3 separate regions of the Homo sapiens genome follow, and all the other regions are linked to region 1. The links come from fine-mapping of genetic effects on gene expression. A gene starts in region 1. Each other region holds a variant in brackets. All regions are shown on one strand. Distances are between the middles of the regions.

Region 1 (6,034 bases):
AGGTGTGTGTCATCATGCTTGTCTAATTAAAAAACTTTTGTTTTTCAGAGATGGGGTCTCACTGTGTTGCCCAGGTTGGTCTCAAACCCCTGGGCTCAAGGGATCCTCCCGTCTCAGCCTCCCGAAGTGCTGGGATTATAAGCATGGACCACTGTGCCCAGCCTTAGAATGACAAGTTTTAAGTATTTGCCTAATTAAAGGGACAGCATTAAGGAAACCACTGGCCTCTTGCAGCTGGAGCCATAAGACAAGCCTCGAGCATTGCCCCTGAGCTCTGCCCCTGTGCTTCTGCTGGAGCCCCTAAGCGCTGCCCTGTGCTTCTGCTGGAGCGCTGCAAAGCCTGTTGCCCGCTCCGGTGGGGGATGTGGGTAGCCTGCTGTCAGCAGAGCCAGCGAGCTCCCAGTGGAATGGGGCGGGGGGAGGAAGAGGTGGGAGGTTGTTGTGCCTGAAGAGTGGACATTTCCTCAACATCAGGTCCCCACCTAGTGAGCGGGACACCCACTTCAGCCAGGGGCTGCGCAGGGGTCGGGAGGAGCCCGTCCAGGCAGCCAGCACCTCCATCATCGCAGGCTGATCTCCTTGCCTCCTGGGAGCCCAGGGAGGCCGGGGATGGCGGCATTATTCTGAGGGTGCTCCAGCCCTTTCCATGAGAATCCTCATGTCTTGGCAGGACCAAGGCAGGAGGGTTGAAGCCCCTACGGAGCTCCGAGAACAGCCTCACGTCTGGCTCAGGCCACTGCTCTGGGACCACCTCTCTGCCAGCTCTTGTTCTCCTCCCGCCCCACAGATGGGTCCACAGGACGTCTGCTGTGCCACGATGGAAAGTTCTGTAGCTGTGCAGCCCAGCCTGTCGCCTCTGCCGCATGTGGCTGTTGGGCACTAGAAACTTACCTCATAAGACAGAGCATCCAAACTTTTAACTTCACTAAATTAAGTTGATTTTAGCGTTAGAGAAGTATTGAATTTAGCATAGCTAGTGGCTGCCACGTCGGATGGGGCAGCTAGCTGGCAGAGCCCTGTGCTCAACCTCTGGCCATGGCCCAGCAGCCCCAGCATCGCCCTGGAGCTTGGAGAAATCTCAAGCCTCAGGCCGTATCTCAAATCTGCAGCGTCAGAATCTGCACTTTAACCAGCTCGTAGGTGATTTGGAAGCACATTAGATTGTAGGAGCCAGCTCGGTGTGGAGGGCAGAGGTCAGGGTGTGGAGGGCAGGGGTCAGGGTGTGGAGGGCAGAGGTCAGGGTGTGGAGGGCAGGGGTCAGGGTGCCTTCTTCCATGGCTTTATCGGTGCCACAGCCTAGGCTTAGCGAAACCACGAGGATAAAAATAGGCCCTTCTGTTCTCCGCACCGTGAGCTTTGTGACTGATCCGAGGCGGCGAGCGGGGGCACTGCACTGCTGTGGCGGGGAAGTCACGGCTGACAAGAACTGCCAGGGACGAAGCCACGTGCATTAATTCATTAAAATACAGTCAGCTATGGAAGGCAGCATAGGATGTGGTTTCGTTCTTAAAGAATTTCATCTGGATGGGCAGACAGATGTGTAAACATGGACTCAAAGGCCGGGCGAGCTGAGATCAGACAACAGGCGCTGGACGCATCCTAACTACGGCTGGGTGGCGGGGCTGAGAGACGGGCTGGGGTTGGGGGTGGGGTTCTCAGTTGGAGGTGGCCTTGAGCCGGCCTTTCAAATGGCTTTGCTTTCCTCTGGGAAAGCTGGAGTTCAGGAGGAGAAGGCCGGTCAGGCCCTGGGGAAAGAAAACCCAGGAAGGAAAAAGGAGCGTGTGGGTGATGGATCTCCCTGGGACGCAGGTTGTCTTTCTGGAGCCCCAAGGGCCCCTGTGCGCGCCATCTGCTGTGCTGGGTTCTGGTTCCAGCTCAGTCCCTCCCTGCGCAGGTGACCTCGGGTGGCTTTCCTGCCTTCAAGGCCCCAGCTGATTCATCTGCAGAGTGGATAGCTTGCCCCGCAGGGTGGCTGTGGTGAAGCAAGGCAACGTCTGTTACTGCATGTCGAAGCCGGGCTCAGCTGTTTCTTTCTGCATGGAAAGTTCTTCTGCAGACAGTGGGGCCTTTGAAGGCAGGCGGCACGTGTTGTTTTGTATGCCACAGGCCTAGCATCCACTTGGCAAGGTGCCCTTTCTTAAGCATCTGTGGGCTTCTTTAAATTCCATGAAAATTTTGTGTGTATTTACTTTTTCTGGGGCTGAGGGGCTCTAGCCAAACCCTCCCAAGGGCCCCTGTCTTCTCTAGTAGGTCAGGACCCACTGCTGGGTGTGCTCAGTGTTTTCTGAGTTAATGATGATTAGTGAATAGGTGACGTCTAGAGATAAAACTTTAAGTCAGGTTACTGGCCGGACCAGGAAGGTGGGGGTTTCAGGCCCAGGCCAGTGGCCGGAGGCAGCTTTGTTAGGGACAGGGAAGGGCCCTGGGACCAGCAGGGACCATGTCTGGCTTCGGGCCTTGTGCGAGGGTCTTGCAGAGGCCTGCTTGGCTTCTCCGGGGAGGGGCTGCTCCCCCTGTTACTTCCACCTCTCTGCAACCCTTGTGACATCATACAGGCACAGCCAATCTCTGCAAAGTTCTGTCTCTACCTCAGGCCCCTATACATTCTCTCTGAGCTGGCACTCAAGCACCGTGGGACCTTGGCTGGCTTCTGGGGAGCAAGAGATCCATTTATGAATACTTGATTTCTGACTGCTGGGTGAGCTGGAGTGTGGTTTATAAATACCTTGCTATCTTTAAGGTGGGCTTTGCCAAAAGAATAGGGTGACAGAGATGAATTTCAGTCATGCAACGAACCCTCGACACTTGGAAGGTGACAGAGGGTAGATGGTGACAGACACCACTTTGTGCCGTTGAACTGTGTTGGTACCGGGCGTGGCCCAAACACCTGGAGGGGCCCCACAGGTGGGTCAGGCTTCTGGGCTCTGGTCACTGCTCTGTTTGGTTTCAAATCATGTGACTTTGGCCTTCTTAAAAAAAAATCTAAAGAGGCTGGGCATGGTGGCTCATGCCTGTAATCCCTGTACTTTGGGAGGCCGAGGTGGGTGGATTGCTTGAGTTGAGGAGTTTGAGACCAGCCTGAACAACATGGCAAGACCCCATTTCTACCAAAAATCAAAAAAATAGCCAGGCATGGTGGTGCGTGCCTGTGGTCCCAGCTACTTGGGAGGCTGACATGGGAGAATTGCTTGAGCCCGGGATGGGATTGGGGTGGAGGTTGCAATGAGCCAAGATCATGCCACTGTACTCCAGCCTGGATGACAGAGTGAGACCCTGTCTCAAAAAAAAAAAAAAAAAAACCTAAACAACTAAGGCCATGGTGAAGTAAACCTATATTCAAAACAAGAGTCACAAAGTAGAACTAAATGTAAATATATACCAAGAGTTGCCGGTAGTCAGGAGTCTCGTGCAGTTGACCTTGGGCTGCTCAGAGTCCCTGCTCAAGGTCACTCTAATTTTGTCCCAAATTTGAACAAACCACTTTTATTATTTCACCATAAATCTCATACTTTTGGCCAAAGGCTTCTTCGGAACTTATTGACAGCGATGACAAAGCCCCTGAAGGTTTTCTTCTTTACGAGGGAGTAACTCTTCCATCAGCACAGCCTTCCCTGCTTGTCAGAGGGAGGTCTCTCTTTCTTGTGCTTCCTAGACTTGCCTGGTCATGCCTTTTCTTATTTTAAGGCTAATCTCAAAAGAAAAAATAGTGTGAGCACCACTTGACTGCCTGAAATTTCATGACTCTATTTTAGAGAGTCATTGCCTCATCGCCTTGCCGTAACCCATGACAATGCTCCTCATTTGCGGTGATTAAGTTGAAATTTGCAGGTAAAACTTTAGCATGTTCCTCAAACATCAGAGCTGACCCTGGGTCTGGTCTCAGCCACAGCAGAAAATGTATTTAAGAGCTCCCTTGAGCAGGCAGTGGGAGGGGTTGCAGCAATGAGCTTAGAAGCAGCTGCCACAGGCTGTCTGAGCACTGTGAGCTGCTGAGCTGGTGGCCTCAGCCGAGGTCGCGTGGCTCCTTCCTTTCTTGCCTAGACCTTGGCTATTTTATCAACAGAAACGGCAGGGACCAGTGAGCAGAGAGCTCAGCAAGCTCATGGCGCAAGAGTCGTGGAGCTGTGACCTCCACCAGGGCTGAGAACGGCCCCTTATACCGCCAGCTCTTGGCTGCCTGGAATCTCTCGGGAACCTCCACGGGGCCCTGCACAGCACAGGCCACTGTGGATACTTCTGGGATTTGTGGCTGAGGAGAGAAACTTAGGAAAGACAAATGTCACGGCCCTTTCACAGCAGACACTGGTTGGGCCTGTGCTGTGGCCTGGAGGCCCAGCTTTAAACGGTCTCTCCTTTCTCACATTTTTTTATCTTAGGGGTGGGGAGACTTTTCACATAACAGCCTTTGAGGTTGTGGGGTGCTATGGTTTGGATGTTTGTCCCCCCAAACCTCATGGTGCAATCAGATCCCCCGTGTTGGAGGTGGGGCCCAGCGGGAGGAGTCTGGGTTATGGGGGCGGATCCCTCATGAATGGCTTGGTGCCGTTCTGGAGGTGGTGAGACGGTTCTTCCTCTGTTAGTCTGGTGAGAGCTGCTTGTTAGGAGGAGCCTGGCGTCCCTCCCACGCTTCCTCTTCTGCCCTGTGGTGGCTGCACGCCGGCTCCCTTCACTTCCTACCAGGAGTGGAAGCAGCCTGAGGCCCTCGCTGGAAGCATATGCTAGCGCCGTGCTTTCTGTACCGCCTGCAGAACCATGAGCCAAGTAAACCCCTTTTTTTAATGAATTGTCCAGCCTCAGGCATTCCTTCACAGCGACACAAATAGGCTAAGACACTGGGAGAACACAGAGAATAAATTTTGCGATATTTGGGGAGATGATGCTGCCTTTACTGTTATTATAAATAAAGTTTCGGTGCCGCCAAAGAAACAGCCCTTGAATATCAATTTTTTTTTTCTTCTCGGCAAGACCATTTACTGCTATAGAAGGGTGTGCCCTCACAGATGGAGCAATGGCGCACACCTGGACAAGGGAGGGGACGGGGTTCTTATTCCTGACGCACGTGGCCCCTGCTGCTGTATCATTCCCCTATTGGCTAGGGTTAGACCGCACAGGCTAAACTAATTCTGATTGGCTGATTTAAAGAGAGTGATGGGGTGAGTGGTTTGGTGGGAAAAATGGTTATGGCAGAGCAGGAAAACGGAATGAGTCAGGGTGGGGCAGGAAATCGGAATGAGTCAGGGTGGAGCAGGTGATCGGAATGAGTCAGGGTGGAGCAGGTGATCGGAATGAGTCAGGGTGGAGCAGGTGATCAAAAAAGGTTGCTTTATGAGGAAGTTAAGTTAAAAGTAGAAGGCAAATAATTGAACATACTGACATACTGATTCTTTGAAGAGAAATTTAGGACTTATATCTAACACTGTTTTTTTCATAATAAAGTGAGAGGGGCTGTGGTTTCAAACAGCATAGGCCTGGGGTCGGACTCATCTGCATTCACAACCCGTCCCCCTCCCTGTTCATTAGCTGAATGACATTGGGTGAGAGCCTCCGTCCCGTCTCTGAGTTCCTTAGCAATGGGTATAATAATGTGTGACTCCAAGGCTTGGAGTACGGGAGATACGGGAACAGATATGGAGCTATAGAGTTCATGCTTAGAGACATCAGTTCCCTTCCTTCTGCTCCTGGCTCATGGTACACACATGTTTTGAAAACCATGCCAGGCATCTGACCTCAATGCACGCAAGCATTTAGCTGCTGGGTCATTGGCAGAAAAGCCTCAAGCAGGGGTTCAGGGAAGGCTTTAATTAAGCTTGGCCTGTGGGGGCTGCTGCCTGGGCTGGATCTGCTGTGAAACAAGAGGAGCTTGATGTTCTAGGAGAAATGCTTGGGGCCCAGGACCATCTGCTGGAGGGAAAAGAATGAGTATTCCCAGAGAAACAGACCAGTGCTGGGGCTGTTCCCTGGAATTCAGGTTAAGTGTCCTGGGCTTGTGAACTGGGCACAAAAGATGCTGCAAGTCTTTGCTTTGGGAAGCTGT
Region 2 (6,034 bases), 64 kb before region 1:
GGCGGCTGGGAGGTGGAGGCTGTAGCGAGCCGAGATCACGCCACTGCACTCCAGCCTGGGCACCACTGAGCACTGAGTGAACGAGACTCCGTCCGCAATCCCGGCACCCCGGGAGGCCGAGGCTGGCGGATCACTCGCGGCTAGGAGCTGGAGACCAGCCCGGCCAACACAGCAAAACCCCGTCTCCACCAAAAAAAAAAACGAAAACCAGTGAGGCGTGGCGGCGTGCGCCTGCAATCGCAGGCACTCAGCAGGCTGAGGCAGGAGAATCAGGCAGGGAGGCTGCAGTGAGCCGAGATGGCAGCAGCACCGTCCAGCCTTGGCTCGGCATCAGAGGGAGACCGTGGAAGGAGACCATGGAGGGAGACGGAGACGGGGACGGGGACGGGGACGGGGACGGGGACGGGGACGGGGACGGAGACGGAGACGGAGACGGAGACGGAGAGCTGATTCCTCCTATTTTATTCTTTTTCAAAATTGTTTTAGCTATTCTAGTTCCTTTCTCTTTTCATATACACTTTAGAATAGCCGTGTCTATATCTACAAAAATTATTGTTATGATTTTGATAGAAATTGTGTTAAGCTTGTACTGTATATTAACTTGGGGGAGAATCAACATTTTTACTCTGTTGAGTCTCCCAATCTATACTTTTTAATTTTCATTTTATTATTTTTGAAACAGGGTCCCACTCTGTCACCCAGGCTGGGGTGCAGTGGTGCGATCTCAGCTAACTGCAACATCCACCTCCCGGGCTCAAGTGATCCTTCCACCTCAGCCTCCTGAGTAGCTGGGACCATTCTACTATGCCCGGCTAATTTTTGTATTGTTTTTGTTAGAGACAGGGTTTCACCATGTTGCCCAAGCTGGTCTTGAACTCTTGGACTCAAGTGATCCTCCCACTTCAGCCCTGCAAAATGCTGGGATTACAGGCATGAGCCACTGTGCTTGGGGTGAGTCTCCTAATCTATGAAGACGACGTGTTTCTCTGTTTATTCAGATCTTTTTTGAGGTTTTCAGCAGCATTTTGTAGTTTTCAGCATGTAAGTTCTATATATGTTTTGTTAGATTTACACCTAAGTATTCCTTTTTTAAAGCAATTGTAAATGATATTATTTTGAATTTTGGTGTCTATGAGTTCATTGTTATTTTATAGAAATCTGCTTGGTTTTTCATTGTTTATTATTTTTTTGAGACAGAGTCTCGCTCTGTCACCCAGGCTGGAGTGCAATGGCACAACCTCAACTCACTGCACCCTCTGCCTCCCGGAGTCAAGTGATTCTCCTGCGTCAGCCTCCCGAGTAGCTGGGATTGCAGGCATGTACCACCATGCCTGGCTGATTTTTGTATTTTTAGTAGAGATGGGGTTTTGCCTTGTTGGCCAGGCTGGTCTCTAACTCCTGACCTCAGGTGATCCTCCCACCTTGGCCTCCCGAAGTGCTGGGATTACAGGTGTGAGCCACCACGCCTGGCCTACTTGGTTTTTTAAATGTTTGCCTTGTATCCTGTCACCTGTCACACTGATTTAATAGTTTCCAGGAGCTCTTTTGTAGACTCTGGGATTTTCTAAGTAGACAACCATGTCATCTGCAACAAGGGACAGAGTTATTTTATTTTTCGAATCTACATGCTGTTTATTTCCTTTTCGGGCCCTGCTGGTGTGCCTAGAACTTTAGCACTGCATTGAGTAAGAGGTAAGAGTGGACACCCTTGCCTTGTCTTGATCTCAGGAAGGAAACATTCCATTTTTGCCCATGAAGTATGATGTTAGCTGTGGCTTTGCCTTTGACAGATGCTCTTTATCAAGTTGAGGAAGGTCCCCTGCACCTATTTTTCTGAGAGTTTTTATCATGAAAGGTGTTGGTTTATGCCAAATGCTGTTTCTATATAAATTGAGATATTCATTTGATTTTCTTTGTTAGCTTGTTAATGGGTTTTTATCAAAGGAGCTTTGAATATTGACATAGCCTCACATTCCTGGATGAAACCCCATTTGGTCATAGTTGATAAATCTTTTTCTATATTGCTGAATTCTGTCTGTTAATATTTTATTAAGGATTTTCTCATCTATATTCATGAGGGTTATTGGTCTATAGTGTTTTTGTTCTGTCTTTGTCTGGTTTTGGTATCAGGGTAATAATCAACTTTATAAAATGAATTGGTAAATATTCCCTCCTCTTCTATTTTCTGGAAGAGGATGTGTAGAATTGGTGTTAATTTTTCTTTAAACGTTTTGTAGACCCTCCTGTGAAACCATCTGGCCCTGAAATGTCTTTCTGGGGAGCGTTTAAATTGCAAGTTCAATTCCCTTCCTTGGCATAGGGCTGTTGAATTATCTGTTTCATGCTGGGCATGTTGTAGTTCGTGTTTTCAAGAAGTGGTTCATTTTGTCTAAGTTGTCAAATTTATGTATAACTTCAATAATACGTTTTAAATAAAGAATCCATTATTTTTCCTTAATTTTATTATGTGTGTGGAATTTGTGTTTTTACAGTTTTATTTTATGATTTCTCAGTCTAAATAAATATTCACCTTTGAACCTAGCTTCTTATGATTGTAATTTTATATGTATCTTTTTCTTAAAGAAGGTTCCGCTATCCCCCAAAACATGCAAGATTCGGGCTGCATAGAAGCTGGATCTGTCCAGCCCCTGACTAACATTTGTTTCTGGCATTAAATGAAACTTGCCTTTAAATGAAACTTAAATGCGTAGAGTGAGTTTCCGGACTCACGTGTGGCCAGGTCTCCACAGGCCGTGGTCAAGCTCTTGCTGACTTTTGAAGCGAAATCCCATATGAACAAAGGAAAGGAGATCAGTCAGCTGCCCTCGTTTCTGTCTGATTGGTGCCAGGTGATGAGCGTCCCTCCTCTTTATGCTCTT[T/C]TGAATTTCCACAGTAGTCATGCTTATTTTTTCAAAAAACGAAAAGAAAGAAGAGAAAGCCAAAAAAGAAACAAAATTGGGATGTTCGGGTTGGAGAGTTAGCAGGGGCATCTCCAGGAGGGTCCTGCCCCCCACCCCAAAGCCGGCCTCAGGGAGTTCCAGGCGTTCCCACACTCCCCAGGCAGGACGGTGGACGCAGCGCAGACAGGAAGCTCCCCGAGATAACGCTGCGGCCGGGCGGCCTGATTTGCTGGGCTGTCTGATGGCCCGGGCCGAGGCTTCTCCCTGCGCCTGGGACTGCGGCCGCCTCTCTAAATAGCAGCCATGAGGCGCCTGGGGGCAGTGTCCTCGCGGGCCAGCGACGGGCAGGACGCCCCGTTCGCCTAGCGCGTGCTCAGGTAGGAGACTCTGCCCGGGGCTGCAGCTGAGGGTTTCACGGGGCTATGACAGTGCAGAGGGGAGGCAGGCAGGCTTCCAAACTGGGCGCGAGGTGGGCTCCTGCTGAGCGAGGAGGATGGGAATCTGTCCCTAGATCCAGGCAAAAGATTGAGTCTCAATAAATCTGGCACCAGAGTTCCAAAGTTTGATTAGTTCATGGCGGAAATTCGTGGAGCCTATTGATGAGATGGGATCCGACCCATGAGAGGTGCTGGATGATGGAGTCACCCTCTTGGGTGGCAGATTTCAAACAGCCCAAGGCCCAGGGGGCTAAACAGTCTTCGCTAATTCCAAACCGCAGTGCAGTACCTGGTCTCACAACCTGACGATTGTTCCTGAGCCTGAGCAGCGTCTGACGGGCCAGGCGGACAGCAGCCACGACTGCCCCCAGGGACCAGTGGCTCTGTGTTGGGCTCAGGAACGGGGATCAGAGAGGTGGGGGAAAGGTGGGCCTTGCTTTGGCAACTTTCCAGGGAAAGACTTTGAGTTCAGATGGGGTCATCTAAAACCAAGTGGGGTCATCTTGTCTCCAAAATTGGAAAGGAGGAAAGTTTCCTAGGGCCGCTGCCTCCTACCTGGATGCCTTGCGCTAGGAACTGGCGGTCTTTTTAGAGCTGAGGTGATGTGGTCGTTCTCAATTTAAAGATGAACGTTTAAAGCCATCTCATGTGCATAGCTGGAATTTTGGTTTGATGGGAAGCACTTTGCCTGTGGTAGGCAGAGCACTGCCCCAATCTTTCACAGCTATTCGATTTTGTTTACAATTTTGAAAAATCCATGTACCGTAGAAGAGAGCACACCGGTAATGTGCTGACCGCTGGGGGAAGATAAGAGAGGATAGGTGCCTTCTTACTCTGTGCTCTTGGTAAGAAGCTAAGAGGAGCGTGTGCTGTTGTGGGTGGAATCCAGGCTGCCCCAGAAGGTGCTCTGTCACTGTAGGGAGGGAAACACCGCGGTGGGGCTGGGGCAGTCCCCAGTGAGAGGAACCTCCTCATGCTTCAGGGATGTGGTTCTTAGGAGGTATTTGTGGTGCCTGTAAGATGCTGGGCCTTGCTGTAGATACTTAATGAAAAAGTAGAATAGCATGTTTGGCAACTGAAGCCATGATTTTTTCTCATTGTCTATTTCATTTTTTTTTTTTTTTTTGAGATGGACTCTGGCTCTGTCACCCAGGCTGGAGTGCAATGGCACCGTCTTGGCTCACTGCAACCTCCGCCTCCCAGGTTCAAGCGATTATCCTGCCTCAGCTTCCTGAGTAGCTGGGATTACAGGTGTGCATCATGGCACCTGGCTAATTTTTGTACTTTTTAGTGGAGAGGGGGGTTTCACCATGTTGGCCAGGCTGCTCTCGAACTCCTAACCAGGTGATCTGCCCACCTTGGCCTCCCAAAATGCTAGGATTATAGGCATGAGCCACTGGGCCTGGCCCCATTGTTTATTTCATTCATAACATGTATTTCCTCTCAGGATTCCACGTTTAACCCCCTCTCCCCTGCTTGTCAAGTCTGCCCCTTCCATTGATGGGAGGGCCCTGAGCGTCTTGGGCCCTGGCTGGGAGATAAGGATGTTGTTCTTAAAGAGGTCCTGGGGGTAGCTGTGGCTTCTCCGTTTACAAAATGGAATTCCTCTTCTAAGAAGGCAGTCAGAGGGCGAGACCTCTGGGAAGCAGAGACTCCTTCGGGCGCCTGGGTGCCCTCACCCTGTGCCTACCTGCCCTGGTTCCTGCTGTGCGTCTGAGAGCGCCCCGCTGCAGGGCCTGTGCCTCCTTTGTGCCCATAGGCCTAGCTGGGGCCCCTCGCAGGAAAGTGGACAGAAACTCTGTGAATGGGCAGCGGGGTCAGTGAATGAGTGGAGCGAGTGAAGGCATGAGAAATCCCAGCCTGGGCTGTTCCGGGGATCAGTGGATGAGTGAAGTGAGGGAAGGCACAAGAAATCCCAGCCTGTGCTGCTCCGGGGTCAGTGAATGAATGGAGTGAAGGCACAAGAAATCCCGGCCTGGGCTGCTCCGGGGTCAGTGAATGAATGGAGTGAAGGCACGAGAAATCCCAGCCTGGGCTGCTCCGGGATCAGCAGATGAGTGTGAGTGAAGGCACGAGAAATCCCACCTGGGCTGCTCTGGTGTCAGTGAATGAATGGAGTGAAGGCATGAGAAATCCCACCTGGGCTGCTCCGGGGTCAGCGGATGAATGGAGTGAAGGCACGAGAAATCCCGCCTGGGCTGCTCTGGGATCAGCAGATGAGTGTGAGTGAAGGCACGAGAAATCCTGCCTGGGCTGCTCTGGGTTTCTCTGCTCACTACTCACCCCTTTTCTTGGGAGACGGAGCCTGATCTTTGTTGAAGCCACTCCTGGGACATCTGCGGAGTGAGGGCAGTAAAAGCCTTGCTGAACACCTGGTTATACCTGAACAGAATCACTTCTAGCTAGAGGGGAAATTCCCATGTCAGCCTTTGATTCCTGAGACATTAAAAAAAAAAAAAACTAAACCCAGTTTGCATCCAGCAAACACTGAGAAGTGAGGTTCGACTTGCGTACTGAGTGGGTGGGGAGGAAGAGTTTACTATTGCTTTCAGAAGCCACATACCACAAGGAGCCAAAATACTGCTGCTGAGGCAGGAGCCGGGGAGACTACGGTTATGAGCCCAGTGGACCAGCACGTCTGGCTACAAACCTTGTGGTGCCCCTTGTTTTGACATTATTTTTGTATTTTTTATTTTT
Region 3 (6,034 bases), 72 kb before region 1:
TCATCTATTCTCACCCTTTTTTCGCTGGAGATTTTTGAAGCAAATTCTAAACATATCATTTAGGAATCTTTTAGCTGTGATAATTATTAAAATCAAGTGCCAAACTTAAAACTAGATTTTAAATTGTTATATCAAAGTATAACAATCATTGCTTTCTCTAAAATTAATACCTTGGTGAACAAAAAGACTTAGATATCATTACTGTGGTTACTCATTTAAACCTTCTGTGTTTTTATAACGTACATACCCTATTAGTACCGTGGTGCGTTCTGTATTAACTACGCATTGGAGGTACTCAAAAGTTTCACTTGGAGTGCACAATGGAAGAGTTTGGGGCCTAGCGTGCTAAGCACGCACAATTTTCATCGGTAAACTTTGTCAAGAAAACTTAAGTTATCTTTTTTTGTCAAGAAAGCTTAAATATATCAAATATTTTTGAAAGGTAAATATAAACTTTTTCATGATTTTGTTGAACAAAGATTAGATAGTAAACCTTCAGGCATGAATGTATGCATTTGCTATGGGAAGTAATAGTGGTTTTAAAAAATCCTTTTCCCTTCTAGGTACATTAGTGCAGCCTTTTCTCCGTGATTCATACAACACAATAAAGGAACTAGTGAAGGTATACAAAGTCACACAGTTCTTTAGTACAGCATCTTGAATGTTTTCAGGCACTGAGATGATACTAGACCTGTAAAGCAGGTATTAGACTTGATATTTATTAAAACTTATAACAGGACAATGCAAACACAGCCTAGTGAAAGAGACATTTCAATGACTGGAGATGGGCCTGGTTCCTAAGATTCCTGTTATTGCTAGATGAGCTGTTGGAAATGCTTTAACTCCATCGAATTTTCTCACTATAATCAATAGCAGCAACAGTGGGTGAGTGACTGTAATGAAGTTTAGTCTGAATGCCTCTAGCAATCACATTTTACTCAAAATGCTATACAGATAACATCAGGGCCGTGCTCTGTAATAACACACTTAATGAGGCCACCATTAAAGTCAGCGTGCTGTTAATTATCTGGATCTAAAATGGCCTAAGCTTCCTCTTGAAAGTAGAGCAAATCACTCCTTACTTAGCTTTTAAATCATTATCTGACAGAACTCCCTTAGCATTCTGCCAGTTTTATTCCCGACTGTGATCTCTGGCATGCTGCAAGCTTGTGATAGTACCTGACCGTTTCACTCAGGGACCCTGAAAGCAGCGCTGACCACATCTTAACCTGACATGGCTAAATCTTCGCCTAAAGCTCTTGGGGAGTTTGATGTGGTGGGTGGGGAGTCCCTCCCTGTGTTTGGTGGCCTGAAGATGAGCTGCATCATTCCTTCGTGGACCTCAGGTTTCCCACTGGGAAATGAAAGAGCGTGGGCTAGCTGAGTCTGAGGGTCCCTCTAATTCTAAAAGCCACTGACTTTAAGTACTACAAGTTTAAAGTATCAGTAAATACAGACAAGTTCTCAGAGTATTTGGCACTTAGTAAAGATGAATGAATGTGTTTTCCTGTCCTTGAAAACCAAACCAGTTACAGATTTTATCTTTTTAAGACAAGAGTCTTGCACTGTCACCCAGGCTGGAATGCAGAGGTGTGATCATGGCTCAGTGCAGCCTCAAACTCCCCAGCTCAAGCGATCCTCCCGCGTCAGCCTCCTGAGTAGCTGGTACTACAGGTGCACACCCAGCTAATTAAAAAAAAAAAATTTTTTTTTGTAAAGATGGGGGTCTTGCTAGGTTACCCAGGCTGATTTTGAACTCCTGGGTTCAAGTGAGCCTCCCTTCTTGGCCTCCCAAGGTGCTGGAATTACAGGCATGAGCCAGCATGCCTGGCCTGGGGTTAACTTGATTTTCAGTTTTAAGGCCTGTGCTGGAGCAGGAGTGTCTAGTGTGGCAGACAGTTGGGGGTGAGTAGGATGGTGTTTGGGGACACCAGAACAGCTCCTATGTCTTCACTGAGTGTCGGTCCATGTGGGTCAGGCACCAGGGTAGACTCTTGAAGGATTAGCTCAAATCCTTCCAAGGACCCTGGGAGGTAGGCAGTGGTTTCCAATGCTTGGAAAGTTTTAAAAACGAGAACACTGAGGTCCCACCGGCAGCATATCTCATCGGCAGCTTTAGGGTGGGGCCCAGCCATGTGTTTTAAGAAGTTTTCCAGTCGATTCTGATGCAAGCTCAAGTTTGAGGACCTCTGATAGTTGACTCCCTAATAGTCTCTGATGAGACAGTGGTGGGGCCCCGCCCTCATGCGCCCAGGCAGGGAGGCTGTGCTCCAGATCTCATGCCTGTGCTCCAGATCTCATGCCTGTGCTCCGGATCTCATGCCTGTGCTCCGGATCTCATGCCTGTGCTCCGGATCTCATGCCTGTGCTCCGGATCTCATGCCTGTGCTCCTGGACAGCTGTGCGCTGCCGGACTGGCACGGTCAGAGGGAAGCGCCGGGGAGAAGATGGAGGCCCAGCCCCACACTGCTGAGGCAGGAGGCCAGAGGGCTCCACTCTGTCCGGGAACTTAAGGACGGGGAGAGGTGGCTGCCGTTAATGTCCTCATGGACAATGTCCCAGAGATTTGGCAGCATGCACTGTGTGATCCCAGTGAGAATTCCCATCCGGAGACAAGCGGGGTTTTCATCCGGCTCCTGCTGTCCAGATTTCTGAGTTATCTCTGAGAAATGTAAATACGATTTGGGATTTGCGCCAGAGTCTTTTCCTGGCCCCCTGGCGTGGACT[C/T]GTTCCATGAGAGGGTCAGGGTTCACGAGGCAAAAGGCTGTTCCCAGCAGCCACGACTTCAACACTTTCAAGAAAAAGCTGCGGGGAGGAGAGGAAAAAGGAGGAGGGGGAAGGCCTCCTGGCCCTTCTGTTCCCAGTGCAGGTGTGAACACGGTTTATAGTCTAACTGTGCTTCCAATACAGTGTACTCGAAATAGGAAGTTGAATGATCACTTATTTATATAACTGAGAGTAATTATCGGCTTATTGGCATTTTTTTTTTTTTTTAATTTTTAAAAAGCCCTTAACGTTTCAGGAACACAAAAACAAACGGAAAACACCCACATCAGCTGTGAAACAGACGCTGGGCGCTTGGGTCTTGGGGGGTCCTGTGGGCCTTGCTGGCTTGCTTGGTGACAAGTGCAGCTTTAGTGTGACGGGCCCAGACTCCGACTGGCACGTTCTTTGTGAACTGTGATCTTGGGCAAGGTCTCTCATTCTTGAACTCTGAAACAGGGGCGACAACTCCTCCTTGCTATGAGGGTAGCTGTGAGGCCTCCATGAGCGAGCGGTCGTGAATGATCCTAGCTGGCACCGGGTTCTACACACGTTCCGTTCTCTTCACCCCAGTTTGCGTCCTCCACGGGCAGAGGGGATGGCTGCCCAAAGGACATGATGTGATGGGCCTGGCCTGGGCACACTGTGCTCCACACCCCACTTCAGACAATAGAGGCAGATTCACCATGAGGCCAATAAAGATCCGGCTGGAGAGGCCTTAGCATTGAGTTCTGTGGTCATATATTTGTATAAAATTAGCACAAATAAAATATTAAGCACAATGGGCCGGGTGCGGTGGCTCACGCCTGTAATCCCAGCACTTTGGGAGGCCGAGGCGGGCGGATCACGAGGTCAGGAGATCGAGACCATCCTGGCTAACACGGTGAAACCCCGTCTCTACTAAAAATACAAAAAATTAGCTGGGCGTGGTGGCGGGCGCCTGTAGTCCCAGCTGCTTGGGAGGCTGAGGCAGGAGAATGACGTGAACCCAGGAGGTGGAGCTTGCAGTGAGCCGAGATCGCGCCACTGCACTCCAGCCTGGGCGACAGAGCCAGACTCTGTCTCAAAAAAAAAAAAAAAAAAAGCACAATGAGTGAAGACCGCTGTCTGGTTCCTCTGTCACAGCCTCCTGCTGAGTGGTGCCGATGCGGCCCAGGCATCTTTGCATCCTGCTGAGGGTTTCCCCACCTTGGCACTGTTAGCTTTTAGGGCTGGAGAGCTCTGTGCTGTGGGGCCATCCCATGCATTGTAGAATGTTTAGCAGCCTCCCTGTCCTCTCCCACTAGAAGCCAGTACCATGTCCCCAGTTGTGACAACTAAAAATGTCTCCTGCACATTGTCAAATGTCCCTGAGCCCGAGGGGTGGGGAGAACAAACTGACGTTGAGTTGGGGTTATATTATTTTGGATTTCAGCTGGATATGCTGGGTGGTTCATGGTGCAGGAGGAGGTCATGAGCTACAAATTGGTCAGTGGTGTGGTCATTTCAAAGACTAGGATTACTCTGAACAAAACAAACCAAAACCCAATCGTTGAGATGCCTGAAATCAAACACCTAGTATATGAAAGAAAACTGATAGAGGTTTCCCCAGACTTGACAGCTATCCAAAAACTGTTCATGGCGTCACTGATAAAGGCTTGTGGAGCTGAAGTAAACTGTTTTGAAGCTACCAATAAGAAGATATTTAAATAACCATGCAAGAAAGAGCAAATACTGAGTCATCTTCTGTTCTCTTTGTAGAAATTTGTGTTCACGGGAGCAGGCAATGAAAGAATATACAGCCAAATAATATAAAAACGTAAGGGCTGGGCTGGGTGCGATGGTTCACATCTGTACTCCCAGCACTTTGGGAGGCCGAGGTGGGTGGATCATGAAGTCAGAAGAGCGAGACCATCCTGGCTAACACGGTGAAACCCCGTCTCTACTAAAATACATAAAATTAGCCGGGTGTGGTGGCGGGCGCCTGTAGTCCCAGCTACTCAGGAGGCTGAGGCAGAAGAATCGCTTGAACTGAGGAGGTGGAGCTTGCAGTGAGCTGAGATCACCCCACTGCACTCCAGCCTGGGCAACGGAACGAGACTCCATCTCAAAAAAAAAAAAAAAAACCCCAAAAAACCCCCCCAAAAACATAAACAAAAACATAAGGGCTGTCAGGCAGCTTTTTAAAAACTAAACTTTTATTAATATCTAGAGATAATTATAGGTTCACATGCAGTTGTAAGAGAGGCTGTGTACTTAATATCCCCAAGGGCAGCACCTTGTGAAACTGCAGGACAGTCTCCCAGCCAGATACAGGGACGTGCCTCGCTGCAGTCACCACGGGGACCCCGCACGGCACCCTCCTACAGCACCCCCTTCCCTCTGCCCCGCTTCCTCCTGGATCCCTGGCAACCGTGAGTCTCTTCTCAGTTTCTGTAGTTTGGCCATCTCAGGAGTGTTGTATAAAGACAATCATACAGTAAGGAGCATTTTGGGGCTGGTATTTTTCAGTGAGTAGAGTCCCTAGTTCCTACAAGGTGCTGCGTGGGTCTATGGTGGGTTCCTCTTTGTGACAGGGCCGCGTTCCATGGCGGGCATGTGCCACAGTCTGTTTAACCATTCACCTGTTGAAGGATGTCCAGGCTGATTATCCTGTTTTGGGATATTATAGGTAAAGCTGCTGTAAACCTTGGTGTACAGCAAGCTTGTCCAACCCACAGCCCTGGGGCTGCATGTGGCCCAGGATGGCTTGAACGTGGCCCTACACAAATTCGTAAGCTTTCTTAAAACATCGTGAGATTTTTTTTTTTTTTTGCTCACCAACTATTGTTAGTGTATTTTATGTGTGGCCCAAGGCAATTCTTCTTCCAATGTGGCCCAGGGAAGCCAAAAGACTGGACGGCCCCGGTGCGTGTGAACACAGCTTTCCACTTCTCTGGAATAATTCCTAGAGTGCAGCTGCTGGGTGGTAGTGTGGTTGTACGTTTAGTTTTTTGAGGCACTCTCGGACTTTTCCAGCGTGGCTGCACCATTTCTTTTTTCTTTCATTTTTTTTTTTTTTGTGACGGAGTCTCACTCTGTTGTCCAGGCTGGAGTGCAGTGGTGTGATCTTGGCTCACTGCAACCTCCGCCTCCTGGGCTCAAGCGATTCTCCTGCCTCAGCCTCTGGAGTAGCTGGGACTACAGGCATGCGCCACCACAACTGGCTAATTTTTTATTTTTAGTAGCGATGGGGCTTCACCATGTTGGCCAGGATGGCCTCGATCTCTTGACCTCGTGATCCGCCCGCCTC

Which allele goes with the higher level. Positions count from the first base shown, and alleles are read on the strand shown. Sizes are in standard deviations (SD) of each study's normalised expression.
With allele T in place of C in region 2, the expression in liver of the gene that starts at base 2,604 in region 1 is higher (moderate effect, 0.60 SD a copy in GTEx).
For the expression in atrial appendage of the gene that starts at base 2,604 in region 1, C is the low allele of the variant in region 3 and T is the other (moderate effect, 0.43 SD a copy in GTEx).

The links. PIP is the estimated chance that this variant, and not a neighbour inherited with it, causes the effect.
Region 2: its variant is the best candidate, but not a certain one, in a credible set for the expression of ALLC in liver (GTEx, PIP 0.70).
Region 3: its variant is the best candidate, but not a certain one, in a credible set for the expression of ALLC in atrial appendage (GTEx, PIP 0.56).

Annotation. Positions count from the first base shown.
Region 1 is chr2:3,655,597-3,661,630 of GRCh38, forward strand. ALLC (allantoicase) reads left to right here and starts at 2,604. Exons shown (of 12, transcript NM_018436.4): 1 at 2,604-2,698. RefSeq lists a silencer at 4,473-4,749.
Region 2 is chr2:3,591,892-3,597,925 of GRCh38, forward strand. COLEC11 (collectin subfamily member 11) reads left to right here and starts at 3,221. Exons shown (of 7, transcript NM_024027.5): 1 at 3,221-3,277. The variant T/C (reference allele first, on the strand shown) is at 2,880.
Region 3 is chr2:3,583,210-3,589,243 of GRCh38, forward strand. No RefSeq gene overlaps it. Among named protein-coding and RNA genes, the nearest start is that of COLEC11, 8.9 kb to the right of the region's middle. The variant C/T (reference allele first, on the strand shown) is at 2,728.